Homo sapiens: one gene and its partner. The protein of the gene in region 1 purifies or fractionates together with the protein of each later gene. This does not show direct contact. Each region holds a gene or a part of one and is shown on either strand. Other genes may lie near its edges.

Evidence for each region. The genes of interacting proteins can lie anywhere in the genome.
Region 2: the proteins of KLHL15 (region 1) and TOR1AIP1 purify together in Homo sapiens (co-immunoprecipitation; 3 studies listed by BioGRID and IntAct, with this or other methods). This does not show direct contact.

What each region holds. Positions count from the first base shown.
Region 1 is NC_000023.11:23,982,043-23,990,725, forward strand, and holds the end of KLHL15 (kelch-like protein 15), read right to left. Parts: intron 6,989-8,683; coding exon 5,879-6,988; 3' UTR 1,678-5,878; downstream 1-1,677. UniProt on the Homo sapiens protein: Substrate-specific adapter for CUL3 E3 ubiquitin-protein ligase complex.
Region 2 is NC_000001.11:179,913,269-179,921,646, forward strand, and holds the end of TOR1AIP1 (torsin-1A-interacting protein 1), read left to right. Parts: intron 1-729; coding exon 730-786; intron 787-4,183; coding exon 4,184-4,971; 3' UTR 4,972-6,808; downstream 6,809-8,378. UniProt on the Homo sapiens protein: Required for nuclear membrane integrity. Induces TOR1A and TOR1B ATPase activity and is required for their location on the nuclear membrane. Binds to A- and B-type lamins. Possible role in membrane attachment and assembly of the nuclear lamina.

The sequences.
Region 1 (8,683 bases):
GTGGGATGGAGAAGACAGTTCTAATCACGTGTTAAGGGAGATGGGGTCTAGGTATCCACAAGTGTTATGGTAAGACCAAGGGGACAATGTTAACATGTCCCAAGGGGTTAAAAAAAAACCAAAAACTGACAGAGGGCATGATGCCCAGGCTGGTTCTTGAAGGCCAAGAAAGGGTTAGGCAGGAATGGAAGAGGGGAAGCATGTGTGCAAAGGCAGACAGGCTTAAGAAAACACAGTCTATTCAGGAACTCCAATTAGCTTGCATAGCTAGAGGATAGAACGTAAAACAGACTGAACAGGTACAAAGAGAGCAACGCATGAAGGGCCTTGTGTGGCACGCACGCTAGGGAATTTGGATCTTAGTCTCAGGGTGAAGGGAGATCAGTAAAAGGCTGCGGAGGCGGGTGGATCACTTGAGGTCAGGAGTTTGAGACCAGCCTGGCCAACATGGTGAAACCCTGTCTCTACTAAAAACACAAAAACTAGCTGGGAGTGTCATCCCAGCTACTCGGGAGGCTGAGGCAAGAGAATTGCTTGAACCTGGGAGGCAGAGGTTTCAGTGAGCTGAGATTGCACCACTGCACTCCAGCCTGAGGGACAGAGTGAGACTCTTGTCTCAAAAAAAAAAAAAAAAAAAAAAAAAAAGAGTAACAGTTGTAGATGAAGCCATAGGTATAGGTATGGATGAGATAGTACAGAGTATGTAGACTGAGATGCAAGCAGAGACAAAACCCCAGGGCATTGTAATCTCTCTCTCATCTGAATACCTATACCATTTGTCTGTTACATATTGAATTTGTCATATGCTGCAATAAACATTTAGCTCAGTGCGTACTGTGTACAAATGCTAGATATGAGGGTACAAAGAATGAAAGATCTTTTCACCCAAGGAGACTATGATCTAGTTGTGGAGAAAGAATCATGCCCAATTATTATGCAAAATGAAGTTAAATAGAAACTATAAGTGTGTTGAGTGTAGAAGAGGCAATTAATTCAACGGAAGAGCTAATGCAGCTTTCAGGAGGGGAGGGAAACATTTGAGTTGGACTTTGCAAAAATAAGTGGATTTTAACAAGCAGGGCAGGGGAAAGAAAGGCAAGTAATTTTAGGCTGGAAAGGAACACATGTAAAGATCACAACAGAATGGAGTGTAGGAAGTGGTGGGGAGAAAGAGGCTGGAAAGGTTGCCTGAGGCCAGGATCTAGGTGCTTGGGAATGCTGTTGAGGTTTCTTAGGTGTCATTTGAAAGATGGCACACATGTGCTGATGTACCCAAGGCCTCCACCTAGTTCTGAATTTCAGAAATGCCTGGAAGACCAATGAATCAAAAATGCTTAAGGAAATCTAAACATCACCAAACTAAGGCTTGAGGCTTGTAAATGCTTTTTCTCAGTTCTATATTTTCATTTTGCAAGACTGCAAAACTCTGTGTTAGTAGAACTTTAATTACTTGGCTTCATTATAAAATTTCCATTGCATATAAGAGTATAAATAATTTCACTCTAATGCTCTCATTTGAATCTGCGGCTGAAAGCACTGGCAGAAATCACATTTTCATGGCACTTCCTTGGCATGTTGAAGGAAAACAAAATGTATTCTGCTAATCAAGTCATTAGTGACTTTGAAAGTGATGGATTATATCAAAAAACAGCAAATAATCAGAGATAAAGAAGTATATTTTAAAGATTAAAAATATTTTATTTAAACTTTTCTTCATAAACACTTTTAACATTTTTTTCAATTTAAAAACAGAATGGATAGCATAAACATGTTTGAATAGATTATATCCACGGCTTGGGAAAAATTACCTGACAAAAATGTAAAGGCTTTCAAAACAGGTATAAAAGGCAAACCTTAAATTATTCTAAGATTTTTATATCGGCCCTAGGATTATTTGACTACTGGCCCAAAATGTACCTAAAGGTCAAAATATTTTTCTATAGACAAAGTATGCCCAAGAGGTATAGGGCATATACAAGTTAGGTAGAAAATAACCTCTCCCAATCACCTCACTGGACCATTCCTTCAGAAAGCAAACACCTAATCCTTACTATATACTGACTAATAACATTTTAAATGCAGTTGTTCCCAAAATGTAAAAAGAAAACCAAAGAATTTAAGGGAGAACAAAGCTGATGGCATTCTCCTCAATGTTACTTGTGTAATATTGAAGTTATACGGTGTACTGAAAGGATATGATTTCCATGAATTTATCTATTCCAGTCTATGCCTACTGAATATTTGACTTTATAAACTCTGGATAAACTAATTTTTAGGACTTCCATTTTTAAGATAAATCTCTTTTTAGAAGATATTTATTCCCAAACCAACTCTAAATGTAATTGAACAAACATATGATCTCTCAAAATGTTCAGAATACAAAAACAAAAATCAAAAATGTATAACAGGCAAACAAGAAAACTGGCACTAGCAGTTTTACTGCCATATAGCCCTCAATTATATCTGATTTACACTATTATCTATGTTGCATTTTACTTCAGTCTAAAACTTTAAATTATGAATTCTCAAAAGAGCTAGTCTCCTCTGAGAGATAGCTTATAAACTGAAATAACAATTTATATTATAAACTGAAATGTTATGACCTACACCCACATATACATATATAAAAATAGTCCCACTGAACGTTTGACATGTTTAGATTATGCAGCTCAAATAATCTGTTATAAAATATTTTAAAGCTTAGTTTCATGTAATTAAGACAAAACTCCATTTTTACCACTTCTCCCCACATAAAGCGTGTGTCCTTTACTATGACTCGAGCAGGCTTCCCAGAATGAGGTGTCCAAAGGTGCTGCTTTAGAAAAGATAAGTGAAGGGCTCAGTCAGTATTTCACAAATTCTAGTAACACTCACACAGAGCAGAGTAATGAGGACACAGAAAGCTGTCTCAAGAAAAGCTAATAATTCTATTAGTTAAGCTTTGCTTTTTAAAAACCAGTAGCATTTCTTCCAACACAAAACCTTCAAAGTGAGAATCTTGCATTTTAAGAAAAGGCTGTAGTGCAAGGAATTTCTTTAAAATCAAAACTTAGAAGGTCAAAGACACGGAAGAGAACAAATGGTTCTAATTAAGATGTAATTAATGAAGATCAGCTATTTTTGTGAACTCTGGCATTTGAGATATAAAGTGAAAACAACACGCATAAAGGTCATAACAGTTAAACTGTATAGATTCAAATCTTACTGAATTTTTCAAAAAACTACTTTTTTGAGCGCAATGTATATAAACAAAAACTCCAAATGAAGCACACAAAAAATAAACTTGAAAAAAATGCTATGAAAAACTTTTCCATAGTTTAGTATAACAAAAATAAATCTCTTGCAGCAATAAAACCATAATTTTAAAAGGGAATGTAAGTTAATCATGGATTTAAAATAACCTAAATTAGAACTACATATAAACAGGGAGTTTTCTCATACATTCAGAACCCAAGCAACAGCAACTATCCTTAAAGCTCAAAACTGATTACAGCTAACATCAGGTCCGACGTGACTTACGTAAAGCTGAACCCAGAGTTAGTTCAAGTTAAGATTTTACGAATTTTACAAAACATGAACTTTGATCTTGGCCTCTGTCTTTAAAATGGAAGACCAAGAATACTCAAATGTTTGCCCAGATGTCACCCTGACTAGGGTCATGAAGTCATATCTAAGCAATTAAAGAGAACCACCACTATAGTGTAAAGGCTTTGATGTGGATACCTGGCCTGATGGCTCTTTCTTGGTCTTTTCTAGCAAAAGACATCAATGAGGAAAATAATGAAGACGTTATTTTCTTTAAAGCAAAATAGCACACATACAAAGCCACTAAACTAATGTAGAAAAAAATTAAATGGCTAACTTATTCCTAACTTTCAAAAATAAAATAATGTATTTTTTAAATGTAGAAAAAGACTTTTACCCATATTACCATGGGAAACAAGATACCAAATTTCATGTTTGGAAACTGTAAGTAAATGACAGGACTAGTTAATGAAAATATAAGTCTCATATATAAAATAAGATTATTATTGATTTTTGAAATCAATGCCAATGGTTTTTTCAAAAGCTACTTATGTACCTGGTTTCTTAAACCCAAATGCCTCCAATTCTGGAGTTTGAAGATCAGGTTTAATCTCATAGTATGTCTAATAACTGCCCAAAAAACCCCCAAAAACCAAAGTCTTCACATTTCCATGACTTCACACTTCCATTTTATGTTCAATGGTGGCAGCAGCAAAAAAACAAACAAACAAACAAAAAAACAAAAAACACCAAACAAAGTGAAACTAGAAAATTTATACATCAGCAGCCATATAGAAGGCATTGCAATATTGCACCAATATTCTAAGATCTGGCAAGTTTTGCCAGTATAGATCTAGTCTGTATCAGATATAGACTACTCATGCGCAAATGGCATCAATTTCAATGATCCACTCCCAGGTTATTCTTGCTTAACTTTGTCAACTATGTTTTTTCCTCTGCATTTAAAGAGTTGAAAGGTGCAGCTAATCCTAAAACACTTATTATAAATGCTTTTAAACAGCTATTCTTGATCCATTCTGAACTTTGTGGTTACTATCCTTCATGCTAATAGCTTTCAGTAAATAAAACAAAAACTGAGGGCTTACATCCCTAGTGTCGCTGGGTATTTTGTACAAAATAAACAAGTAGATAAAACCAGTAACATTATAATTCTATTTCTTACCTCTAAGTCAAAACTGAGGTCAAATTTTCTAAGAGTTTCTACCTTCCATTCAATAACAAATGCAGCAGCCTTACTGAATGTAAAAAATGGGAGTTGCACTTACTTTTAAGGGGCCTTGATTTAGGAGTCTGGTATTACCTAAATGCTCTTTAAAAGTGCTTGCATGCTGCAGGGCCAGAACTTGTCATATACCACTCCGATTCTCACTAAAAACAGGGTAACGTTAAACAGACTGCAAAGAAAAACATTTTCAAAAAGAAAAGACATACATCGACAAAGAACACTAACATTTACTTTTGAAAATAAAATATAAAGTGTTAGTTTTCATAACCATACATGTTTCAGAAATATAAGGAGTTCAAATATTACTGAATCAGTATGGACTGAAGATAGGCTACTTTGATAGCAAATGAGGACTCCAGTTATTTCAACTTTCTAAAAATGTTAATATGTGAAAAGACGTTACATCTAAAATTCAACAAGTATGGCGAACTGTGTGTGCAAGTAAGTGCACTAGCTTAAAAATATAGAATCCTAACCACGCATAAAAGGGATGTGCCTTGTGTATTTATAGGTTGTATGCGAGTATGAATATGCTTTCACTAACACAATGCGGATAAGAGAAGGCAGCTTAGAAATAGTGTTTTGAATATAAAAAGTTAATTTTGTAGAAAATTTATATTTTTGCATTTTCAGCAAAAAGCCATGCAAAAAGGTCAAGAGTTTTAAACTTTTAAATAATAAAACTAAAAAGTATAACAGACTGAAATACACTGAAATAAATCTTCAAAAAGGTTTCAGATAGAGACAGAGACTGAAATCACATCCAGTGACACTTATCGGGTCTTCTCTTAGAAGACACATGACTCCTACGCTAACATCTGAAAGAAATGTTTAAAGCAGAAAATCAATATCCCAGATAAGTGGAGCATTCTATTCAACTGCTTCTGGAAGTAGTTTCAAGAGCTAGCACTTAGAATTAACTTATTGCATGAGTTTGAGGCCACTGAAAAGAAAAAAAGGATGCTAGCACAGAATGAAAAATTCTTACAATGTTAGACCAATGGCTTTGATAGTAAAACTGGTGAGGTTTTTCTTTATATGTTTTAATTAATTACTCTGTGCAAACAAATACTTTGTTTGCCTCTTTTTTTAGGGAGGAGGATGTCATTAGTTGCAACGCCTGACCTCATCCAGTACATAGTCCGGAAAATGCAGGTTGCATACTTGTAAACCATCCAGCTTGCAGGGCATCCGAGGGTACTCATCTTCCTTCCACTTGTTTTCATCCGGATCAAAAGTGAGGATGGAATCGCTGTAATGACCATTATAACAAAGGCCTCCAAGAACCATTATTTGTTTGTCCAGCACAGTCACACCATGGCCACTTCTACCAATCGGCATGGATGCCAAGATGGTCCACTGATCAGTCTCTGGGTTGTATACTTCTGTAGAAGGGCATCCCTGAGATTCGAAAGAGGCCCTCAAGATCACACAGACACCACCGAAGACATAAAGCTTGCCATTGTAAGAAATCATCTTGTGAAAGCATCTCGCGTAATTCATCTTGCTCTTATTCTCCCAACAGTTGGTAACCACTTGAGTTCTCCTGGTCCGTTGTTCTATGGTCCCTTCTTTGCTGGGGTCAAACACGCACACTTGCTTGGAGGTGGAAGATGAGGTGATTCCACCGGTGATAAACAATTTGTTATTGAGCACTGTCCCCTCATGTCCATATTTGTTAACTGGATAAGGATCCACAAATTCCCATTTATCGTTGGTGATGTCATATCTCTCAGTTGAATAGAAAGTCTCATCTCTGGTTCTGCCTGCTACGGCGTAAATAAACTTCCCAATAACACCTACAGCAAATTCAGAGCGTGGTACAGACATATCTGCCATCTGCAGCCAGGAGTTCTGTCTCGGGTCATACCTGAATACTTTGGAAGAAGCATGGAATTCACCATCCGGGCCCAGCTCTTCCCCGCCTAACAGGAACACAAAATTATTGACGATAGCAAGGCAGTCAGGTCGCAGAGGTACTTGTGGGCCTTCTAGCTCCCACCAGACTCTTGGTTTCTTTAAGAGAAGTATTTTACTGTTAACCATGCTATGTCCAATCATTCCTCGAAATACTGTAGTTTGCGGTTTTGCAGAACGGATGCGGCTTGACTTCATATCCAACAAAGGCTGCTGGTGAACATTCTGAAAGTAATTCAATGCTTGGTCAACTTCGTAACGGAGCTGTCGGGAGTATCTATAAAATTCTGATGTCTTAACCTAAGAACACAAGAAAAAGAATTTAACCAAAGGAAAAAGCATCAGCTGCAAACAAATTATCAAAGCTGACTAATACGATCATCTTAGGCTCACTTTACTAAAACTGCTTTTCCTGCTAAGATCACCTACTTTCTTTTGTTTTCTACAAAGCTTTTAAAAAATCTTTTTTTTTTTTTTGGAGATGGAGTCTCACTCTGTTGCCCAGGCTGGAGTGCAGTTGCATGGACTCAGCTCACCGCAAGCTCCGCCTCCCAGGTTCAAGCACTTCTCTGCCTCAGCCTCCTGAGGCGCCTGCCACCACGCGCCCAGCTAATTTTTTTATTTTTAGTAGAGATGAGGTTTCATCATCTTGACCAGGCTGGTCTTGAACTCCTGACCTTGTGATCCACCCGCCTCAGCCTCCCAAAGTGCTGGGATTACAGGCGTGAGCCACTGCACTGGGCCTCCTATGTTTTCTTAATTTATAATGATCTATGTACATTCCCAAGCTTTTAAGAGTAAACAAATAATTAGGCACCTATTATGTGAAGCCCTGGGCTACAAGTAGCGGGTATGAGGACAAGTACAGGGCTTCACAGTAGAGGAAACCATATCCACAGTTTTCTTAACCACAAGTAACATCATAAAGCTGTGACTGAATCATTTGGGGAGTTAAGTTAGTGAAAATTTAAATACATGTAAAATTTCGGGGTTTTGACATAAAGACTTGGTCTGATAACTCCTGTAAGAATTCAGTAGATATCAGGTCAAACTTTTTCCTTTAATTTTTAAAATTTTATTTTAAAATTATTATTACTATATATTTTTAGAGATGGGGTCTTGCTCTGTTGCCCAGGCTGGTCTTGAACTCCTGGCCTCAAGCGATCCTCCTGCCTCAGCCTCCTGAGCTGCTGGGATGACAGGTGTGAGTCACTGCGCCTGGCAAACATTTTCCTTTTTGCTTCTGGAGCTGGAGCTACCTAATTATGATGACTACCAAGATTTATATAAAGCATTTTTGGCCAGGTGCAGTGGCTCATGCCTGTTGTCCAAGCACTTAGGGAGGCCAAGGTGGGAGGATCACTTGAGACCAGCCTGGGCAAACAAAGCAAGACCTCATCTCTACAAAATTAATAAAATAAAATAAAAATAAAGCACTTTTAAGTATTGTCCTAAGTGCTATAGGGAGAAACAAAAATAAGCGTAAGATGTGATCCGTTTCCTTAAAGAACCTAGAATGTATTTGGGAAAGTGGAAACAAATACAAATTTACCAATAGGTAAATGAGTCAGGTGACAATTAGGTATGAAGCCAAACAGCACATCTGTGAGTGTGGCAGAATTAGAGATAAAGATTATACTAAACTGGCCCAAGACATTCAAGAGATACTTTGTGGAAGATATAAGAAGTAGGGGACCAAGCAGAAAAATCCTTTGTCATAATAAGACAAGGATAAGAGGGTCTTAAATTTGGGTAACAGGAATTAGATAGCGTAGAGATAACATCTACAGACAACCATGACTGATTTGAAATAGGGTGAAAGAATGAGGACTCAAATGTGATTTGAGCATTTAGACTTGAGGTGATGGAAAGAGTGTTGATATCAATAGGGAAAGCAGGGAAGATGAGCTGGTTTGGGAGAGGTATTCAACTTCCTTGATAGGGTTCTGAGGCGGAAATGTCTAAGAGCCTGTTGGAAATCTGGGATGACAGTTT
Region 2 (8,378 bases), on another chromosome or scaffold:
TATTTTCTAAATAGATTTAGATGAAAGTAGAAATTTGACAGAGTTGAGAGAAAATTATTTTTGAGCTCTATTGTTTAACCACAAGCCTAAAACAGAATTACTTTATTACTTGTCTATTAACAGAAATGATGAGAAGTTTTTAAATGTGATTTTAAAATACTACTAGTATTTGAAATGGTCAGAATCCCCAGAGGAAATACTGAATCAGTTTGAGGTAGAAAATAGTGAGGATTAAGATTTTTATATTAAAACACCTTATCCAGACAGCTCAGTAGTCTGTAATCCACATTTTGTCCTTATTTTCCCCCTCTTTACAGCATCTTCACCAGGCAAGAGTTCAATATATGGCAGTTTTTCAGATGGTATAATATGTTTCATTTTATTATGGTGTGCTTAGTTTCTTTGTCCTTTTTATCCCGGAAGTTTCACCAATCCCATTAGATACTTAATGGGTCAAATACTTCCAAACTTTCTCTCAAAACTAATTATTGTGTGCTTTGTACTAGACCCCACCATATGCTGTGAAAAGCTATGAAAGAAATAGGTCATGTGTTTCAAGGAGCTCTCAGTCTAATCGGCACTCAGATATTCTACTTTTTCTTCTGCTTCTGGCTGATCTCTGTCTTCTTTTTTTCCTGGTGGAATTTGTATCTTCTTTGTCTACTAGAAATAAATACTCAAATTATGAAGCATAAGTTGATAGTCTTATTTTATTACTCTCACCATTAGATGACAGCATTCTGAAATCAGAGCTTGGAAACCAGTCACCATCAACCTCCAGCCGACGTAAGTTTATGTATTCAGTTTTTATTAAATATTTCTGTAAAATTGGTATTCCATAATTGTTTAAAAATGTTTTTTGACAGCAGTATGACTCGATGCTATTTGAAGAATCACATTTTAAGCACTTGAGAGGAAAAAGTATATATTCTACTAGCAGTGAAATTCTTTATAGACAAACTTTATGAGACAACATCTGGTATTGCTCTTCACTTAACTGTCTATAAGACCAAAAATAATAGCTAAAATAAGTAAAGCTACTAATACTGTTAACTGAGAAAACCATGCTGAATTGAAAGAAAGTTAGCCAGAGCATGACTTTATGGGATTACAATGGCTTTCGGAGTCTGCAAACCTGTATTTGAACTAGATTGGACCACTTACCTCCTTTACAGCCTTGTGGCAAGTTTCTTTAGTTCTCCAAGTCTTATTGTCCTGAAAGAGTACTAAGAAAATAACTTAATGGGCTGAGCGTGGTGGCTCATGCCTGTAATCTCAGCACTTTGGGAGGCCAAGGCAGGCGGATCATGAGATCAAGAGATCGAAACCATCCTGGCCAACATGGTGAAACCCCATCTCTACTAAAAATACAAAAATTAGCTGGGCGTGGTGGCACACGCCTGTTGTCCCACCTACTCAGGAGGCTGAGGCAGGAGAATCACTTGAACCCAGGAAGCGGAGGTTGCAGTGAGCCGAGATTGTGCCACTGCACTCCAGCCTGGCAACAGAGCGAGACTCTGTCTCAAAAAAAAAAAAAAAAGAAAATAGATTAATGATGATTCTGAAATTTTTTGTTCTTGGTACCGCTTTACACTAGTAAAGTTATTAAGAACCTCAAAGAGCTTTTTGTTGAAAATATGGGTTATGTCTATCCATATGTACCAGGAAATTAAAGTTGAAACATTTTTTAAAATATGTATTAATTTATTTTAAAATAATTTAGCAAGAAGAGTAACAGATCAGATTGCTTTGCATTTTTTCTAATCTCTTTAATGCCTAGCTTTAAAAAATGGATTTGGATTATCATATATGCTTCTGTATGCAGTCTGTTACAATATATTATTTTTGTTGAAGTATCTACAAAAAATCCAGCTTTTATACAGATATGAAAAATTTTAATAGCCTCTTCAGATAATTGTGGCTATTCTTTTTTGAACTCTCCAAAACTCAACAAGTGGTAGTTTCTTAAATGTTACTTGAAATAGGATATCTAAAACCATCTTACTGAGCTTTTAGTACTCTATTACATTAAAAGTCATTGGTCTTTCTTATACTTTGAATGGAGTATCATGCACTGGTCATTTGGAAAACATTGGTTCACTGAGGAATGCAGATTTTCCAAACATTGACACATTAGGAATGTAATAAAAAATATCACATTTGTTAACATCACTGCCAATCTCAAGACTTTAAAAAAGTGTTAAAGGGTGGGGTTCGTGGCCCATGCCTGTAATCCCAACATTTTGGGAGGCCCAGGCGGATGGATCACCTGAGGTCAGGAGTTCAAGACCAGCCTGGCCAACATGGCAAAACCCTGTCTCTACTAGAAATACAAAAACATTAGCTGGGAATGGTGGCACGCACCTGTAATCCCAGCTACTTAGGAGGCTGAGGCAGGAGAATCACTTGAACCTGGGAGGCAGAGGTTGCAGTGAGCCAAGATCGCACCACTTCATGTCATCCTGGGCCACAGAGCGAGACTCCATCTCAGAAAAAAAAAAGAAAGTGTTAAAGTACAATATTGGGAGTTGTCAAGCTCATGGTGGCAGATTTAGGATTCTAAAATCCTAATTTTCACTTGAAAGCAAATATCTGCCAAATACACAAGTCTGACTGTAGTTTGTTACTTGTTCTTTCAAGTAAAAAATAGTATTCCATGAAAAATGTGCTAATTCGCCTTGTAATTCATTTGCACAAAATTCTTTTCCTTGAGACAACCATGGTACTGTATGATGCAGCAGAAGTGCTTTGTGCATACCTTCCATTTGTTCAGAAAGAATATTGACATATGTACTCAAGGATTCAGATTTAATAAGATAAATAATTAACTGCTTCATAAAGGACATTCTTAAGTAAAAGAATGTCCCTTTGTTAAATCTTGAATGCATGGCAGTGAAAAATAACAATGACTACACTCGTACAGTTTGGTGCCACTGCCCTGTAACTCATGCTAAGGCATCAGAAGTTTTTCTCACCATAGCTTTTGCGTCATCAGTGCAAATGTCAACACAAGGTGAAAGTCAAATAACATCTTAGTGTTAGAAGAATAGCTTTAACTTCATGGACCCCCCTCCCCACAAAATAGGGTCTTGAGGTACCCCACAGACCACGCCTTGAGAATTGCTGCTCTAAAAGGTCCCTACTAAAATTAATAGCCTGAAACAGTCAATAAGTAAAAGATGTAAAAGTATTATTGTTACTATCAACTGAATAAATGAAGTAGAATATGAGAAAGTACTTTATAAACCGAAAAGCACTAGATAAATATAAATTAATCCTATTATTATTGCCAATAGTAACTAGGGATGAGTCACAAACTAAATTTTACCAGTGTTAACTTGCATACCACAAAAGGCATCAGTGAAATTAATCTAAAGGGACAGCTAGCTATTATAACACGTAGAAGATGTTCATTTATATTGCATCCTTTTCTTTTTTTTTTTTTTTTTTTTTGAGATGGAATCTCTCTCTGTCACCCAGGCTGGAGTGCAGTGGCGTGATCTCGGCTCACTGCAACCTCCGCCTCCCGTGTTCAAGTGATTCTCCTGCCTCAGCCTCCCAAGTAGCTGGACTACAGGTGTGTGCCACCACACCCAGCTAGTTTTTTGTATTTTCAGTAGAGACGGGGTTTCACAGTCTCGATCTCCTGACCTCGTGATCCTCCCTCCTCGGCCTCCCAAAGTGCTGGGACTACAGGCATGAGCCACCACTTCCAGCCTGCATCCTTTTCTTTATCCCTTTATGTACTTCAGAAATATTTCACCTTGAATAATTAGCCATGTGAATGCTGAGTTACTAAATTAAAAAAATATTTTATAAATTGTATTTTAATAGTCTATTCTCCCAACTATTAGCAGTGAAAATAATAACTTCGCTTTATAAACTATTATTTTTCTGACTTGTTTATGCCATTTCATATGTTTAAAAACTTTTTTCCTCAAAGACTTATTTTTATATTGAAGAGACATATGCATATTTGTACACATAATTCAAAGCCTATGCATGTAAGATTTTCTTGAGAATGTGATAAATTATTTTATTAAGAAAATTATCAGCTTTCTTCTTTAAAGTCCTTCCTCTTTTACCTAATGTTTATAAAGACTGATATTGATTTTAAAAGTCACTTGCCCCTGAATCTAAGAAAGTGGTATTTATATCTGTCATTTCTTTTTTGTCTGAGTAGAAGTGACTGGACAACCCCAAAATGCATCTTTTGTCAAGAGGAACCGGTGGTGGCTACTTCCTCTGATAGCTGCTCTTGCCTCTGGGAGTTTTTGGTTCTTTAGTACTCCTGAGGTAGAAACCACTGCTGTTCAAGAGTTCCAGAACCAGATGAATCAACTTAAGAATAAGTACCAAGGTCAAGATGAGAAGCTGTGGAAAAGGAGCCAAACATTCCTGGAAAAACATCTTAATAGCTCCCATCCTCGGTCTCAGCCTGCTATCTTACTGCTCACTGCTGCCCGAGATGCTGAAGAAGCACTTAGGTGTCTGAGTGAACAAATTGCTGATGCCTATTCTTCTTTTCGTAGTGTCCGTGCCATCCGGATTGATGGGACAGATAAAGCTACTCAAGACAGTGATACTGTCAAACTAGAGGTAGACCAAGAACTGAGCAATGGATTTAAGAATGGCCAGAATGCAGCTGTGGTACACCGCTTTGAGTCATTTCCCGCAGGCTCTACTTTGATCTTCTACAAATATTGTGACCATGAAAACGCGGCCTTCAAAGATGTAGCCTTAGTCCTGACTGTCTTATTGGAGGAAGAGACACTTGGAACAAGTCTAGGCCTAAAGGAAGTTGAAGAAAAAGTAAGAGATTTTCTTAAAGTCAAGTTCACCAATTCTAACACACCCAACTCCTACAATCATATGGACCCAGACAAACTGAATGGCCTCTGGAGCCGTATTTCTCACTTAGTTCTGCCTGTGCAACCTGAAAATGCCCTGAAAAGGGGCATCTGCTTATAAGAAGTGAGAGAGAAGAAAAATCATGTCCCAAGTTCTGAGAATTGTTCACACTTTCTAACCAGAGACAGAATTCAGAGCTCTTTTTGAAAGAACTAGTTTCTTTTTAAAGAAGTTAAGTGCTTACATAAACATGGAACATATAAATCATTCATTCAACCTAATTATCTGTGATATGAGAGAATCATTTCAGTTTCCATTGAGAGCTCTGTTAAAGGTATCTTAGGAGTGCAGATTATATGCAGTTCCTTAGAGAATCTGTTTTGATTCTGGGCTGAGTTATTACAGTTATGGTATGACCAGTGAGAGGGATTTGTGTCCTTTCTTATGAACCTTCCTGATTTTTTAACTTAGATTTCTCACTAAGTTTCCTGAGTTATTAGTAAGATTGCTCCCTAAATGTAACCAGGGATTTTCCCATTATGTTCCCTTTTATACCATTTAGGTGTGAGTTCCTTAGCTTCTGCCTATAGGAACATAAGTAATGAAAGGTCATCTAGGTGTGTGTTTGGAATTTTTTTCTTTTGTTTTTTGGAAAATGGAAAGAACAAGGCAAGGAAGGAAAATTAATGGGGAAGCTGAAGGGAGGAAATGTTACAGTAATCCACTGAGATGTAGTTTAGTCAAACATAGGTATATGAACTGTTAATCTTGGTGGATTCCGTTGGGATTTGTTTTTTACATCTCCTTTTTCCTTCCTTGAAGAAAAATTCTTGGCTGTCCCAAGGATTCTTCATGTATATTGCAAAATTTAATATATTTGTTCACTTGAGTCTTAAGAGTAGGTCAGGCCAAGGCAGGTGGATCACCTGAGGTCAGAAGTTCAAGACCAGCCTGGCCAACATGGTGAAACCCCGTCTCTACTAAAAATACAAAAATTAGCTGGGCGTGGTGGTGCATGCCTGAAATCCCAGCTACTTGGGAGGCTGAGGCAGGAGAATTGCTTGAACCCGGGAGGCGGAGGTTGCAGTAAGCCGAGACCATGCTTATTGCCCTCCAGTCTGGGCAACAAAAATGAAACTCCGTCTCAAAAAAAAAAAAGTAGGTCAATTCGTAACAGTTTATTTTGGACACACCCTGAAGCTTTTGTTTTGAATTAAGAAATGAGTTTCAGGAATTGACAAACCATTTGTTAACCAGCTGTCCTGGGCTATTGAAGAAGATTTCATTTTCCGCGCATCCACTTGTTGCAGTCCAAGTCCTCTAGTGCAACGCCATAGCAAATATAAAGATTTACTATGCACGTGATACATTTTATGGAGTGCCTCAAGCCAAGATAGTGAATTTATATGAAGGGTGTGAAATGTATTTCTTTACTACTATAGTAGTTTAGTTATAACTTTGCATCTATAATTGAGCTTTCTCATCTGTCAAATGCTATGGTTTTCTTAAAATGTTACAATTCTAGATCTATCCACCTTGTTTTTTTATTGTCTACAAACCATTAAATGTAAATATTGTTTTTAGAGTCAGTCATTGGCTTTGTCATTTACCCTTTGAGAGTTCCACAAGTGGTAGTAGAGTGGTTTAACGTCTTTCCTCTAGTACTACCAGTATTCATAAATGTATACCCCTTACTGTAATTTGTTCCTCTTAGAAGTCAGATCATCTGATTTATAGAGGATTATGAAAACCAGAGTTTTTGAAAAGGCTTATTTTATACATACGTATTATATAGAGAAACAAATGTTTTTATTAAATGTTTCATTGACCCAAGTAATTTAAAAGTAATATGTTACCTATGTCTTTCAGGAAAAATAATTATAGCAGCTGATCTGTAAATGACTTTAAAAGCTATTTTAGTAATTTAAATAAATTTACTTTCTTGGTTTATACTCTCTATGTGTTATAAACTTAATGATTTATCATCTTTAAAAAAAGAAATCCAAGTATTTTCCTTGAACAATTGTAGCAACTCTGGCTAGGAGAAACAAAAATCAAAGAACTGGAGCCATTTGCAAGTACATTGGTTAGAAGTGGAATAGCCGTAACTTTCCATTTTATCTCGGCACTTAGGGTTTTTAAAAATACAGTTAAGTTAGATATTCCTGACTTAGCAAAAGAATCTCCACAGCAGCTTTTCTTTTTTTTTTTTTTAAGTAGACATGGGATCTCGCTATATTGCCCAGGCTGTTTTTGAACTCTTGGCCTCAAGCAGTCCTCCTGCCTAAGCCTCCTAAGTAGCTGGGATTACAGGCATAAGTCACTACACCTGGCTTCTTAACCTTTTCTTTATCACCTCCCTGAAGAACTTTTTTAGATTTTTTTCTTAGTCACCCCTTCCCCATGATATTTCAACACCAGATATATACTATGTATCTGTTTATGGACTGTAAATGTTTTTTGCTTTATACAAAATAGAATTTTTTTTTGTCCCCAATGAACCAATTTTCACCCCCATTGAGAATGCATGCTCAAGAGCATCCACGTTTTAGATAATTGCTGCCTAAAATGTTCTATTTGCTATTCATGTTACTGTGATCCTTTTAGAAGGGAAAATTTATTTTTTATTTTTTTTATTTTTTATTTTTTTTATTTTTGAGACAATCTCACTCTTGCCCAGGCTGGAGTGCAGTGGCGCAATCTCGGCTCACTGCAACCTCCGCCTCCCATGTTCAAGTGATTCTTCTGCCTCAGCCTCCCGAGTAGCTGGGATTACAGGTTCACACCACCATGCCCGGCTAATTTTTTGTATTTTTAGTAGAGACGGAGTTTCACCATGTTGGCCAGGCTGGTCTTGAACTCCTGACCTCAGGTGATCCACCTGCCTTGGCCTCCCAAAGTGCTGGGATTACAGGCATGAGCCGCGGAGCCTGGCCTAGAAAGGAAAATTTAAGTAAGATACCAGCTTCAGAATAGGAGCTAGGGTCTAGAGAAATGGAGCACATTGTAACTGGCTGACAACAGTGGCCCAGGAAAACCACAGTAACTTAATTTGAAACTTAATTTGCTTCCCTTGTTTTAATGACTTTTTAATATTTAAAGATGTTTTCTAAACCTCTAATCCTCAAAACAAAAATTGGAAGTAAACTGATTTTCATTCAGTGAACTGCCATTTAGAAGTGATAGGGGTTTACATACTTTGTACCATTAGTTAACGCCTAAGCTAAAAGTATAATATCCAGTTTCCCTATGATCTCAAGTTTATGGAAAGTAGCCTTTCTTTTGGCAGTGTAAACAAGCAGTTACATTAAATACGTAAAGATAATGCATTATTCTGCTATTTTGTCCTTATCAAGATCATGTAGTAAAATTTTGTGGTATAAGAGGATAGTGTTTTTCCCTAAGGAAGAGGATTTTATTGGCATTAACCACCAAAGATGGGGTTCCTGAGCCTGGAAAACCAAGCTGAGAAGGCTGCCATTGACTGGAAAAGGAGGAAATTCCTCCCTTGAATGCCCTCTTTCTGG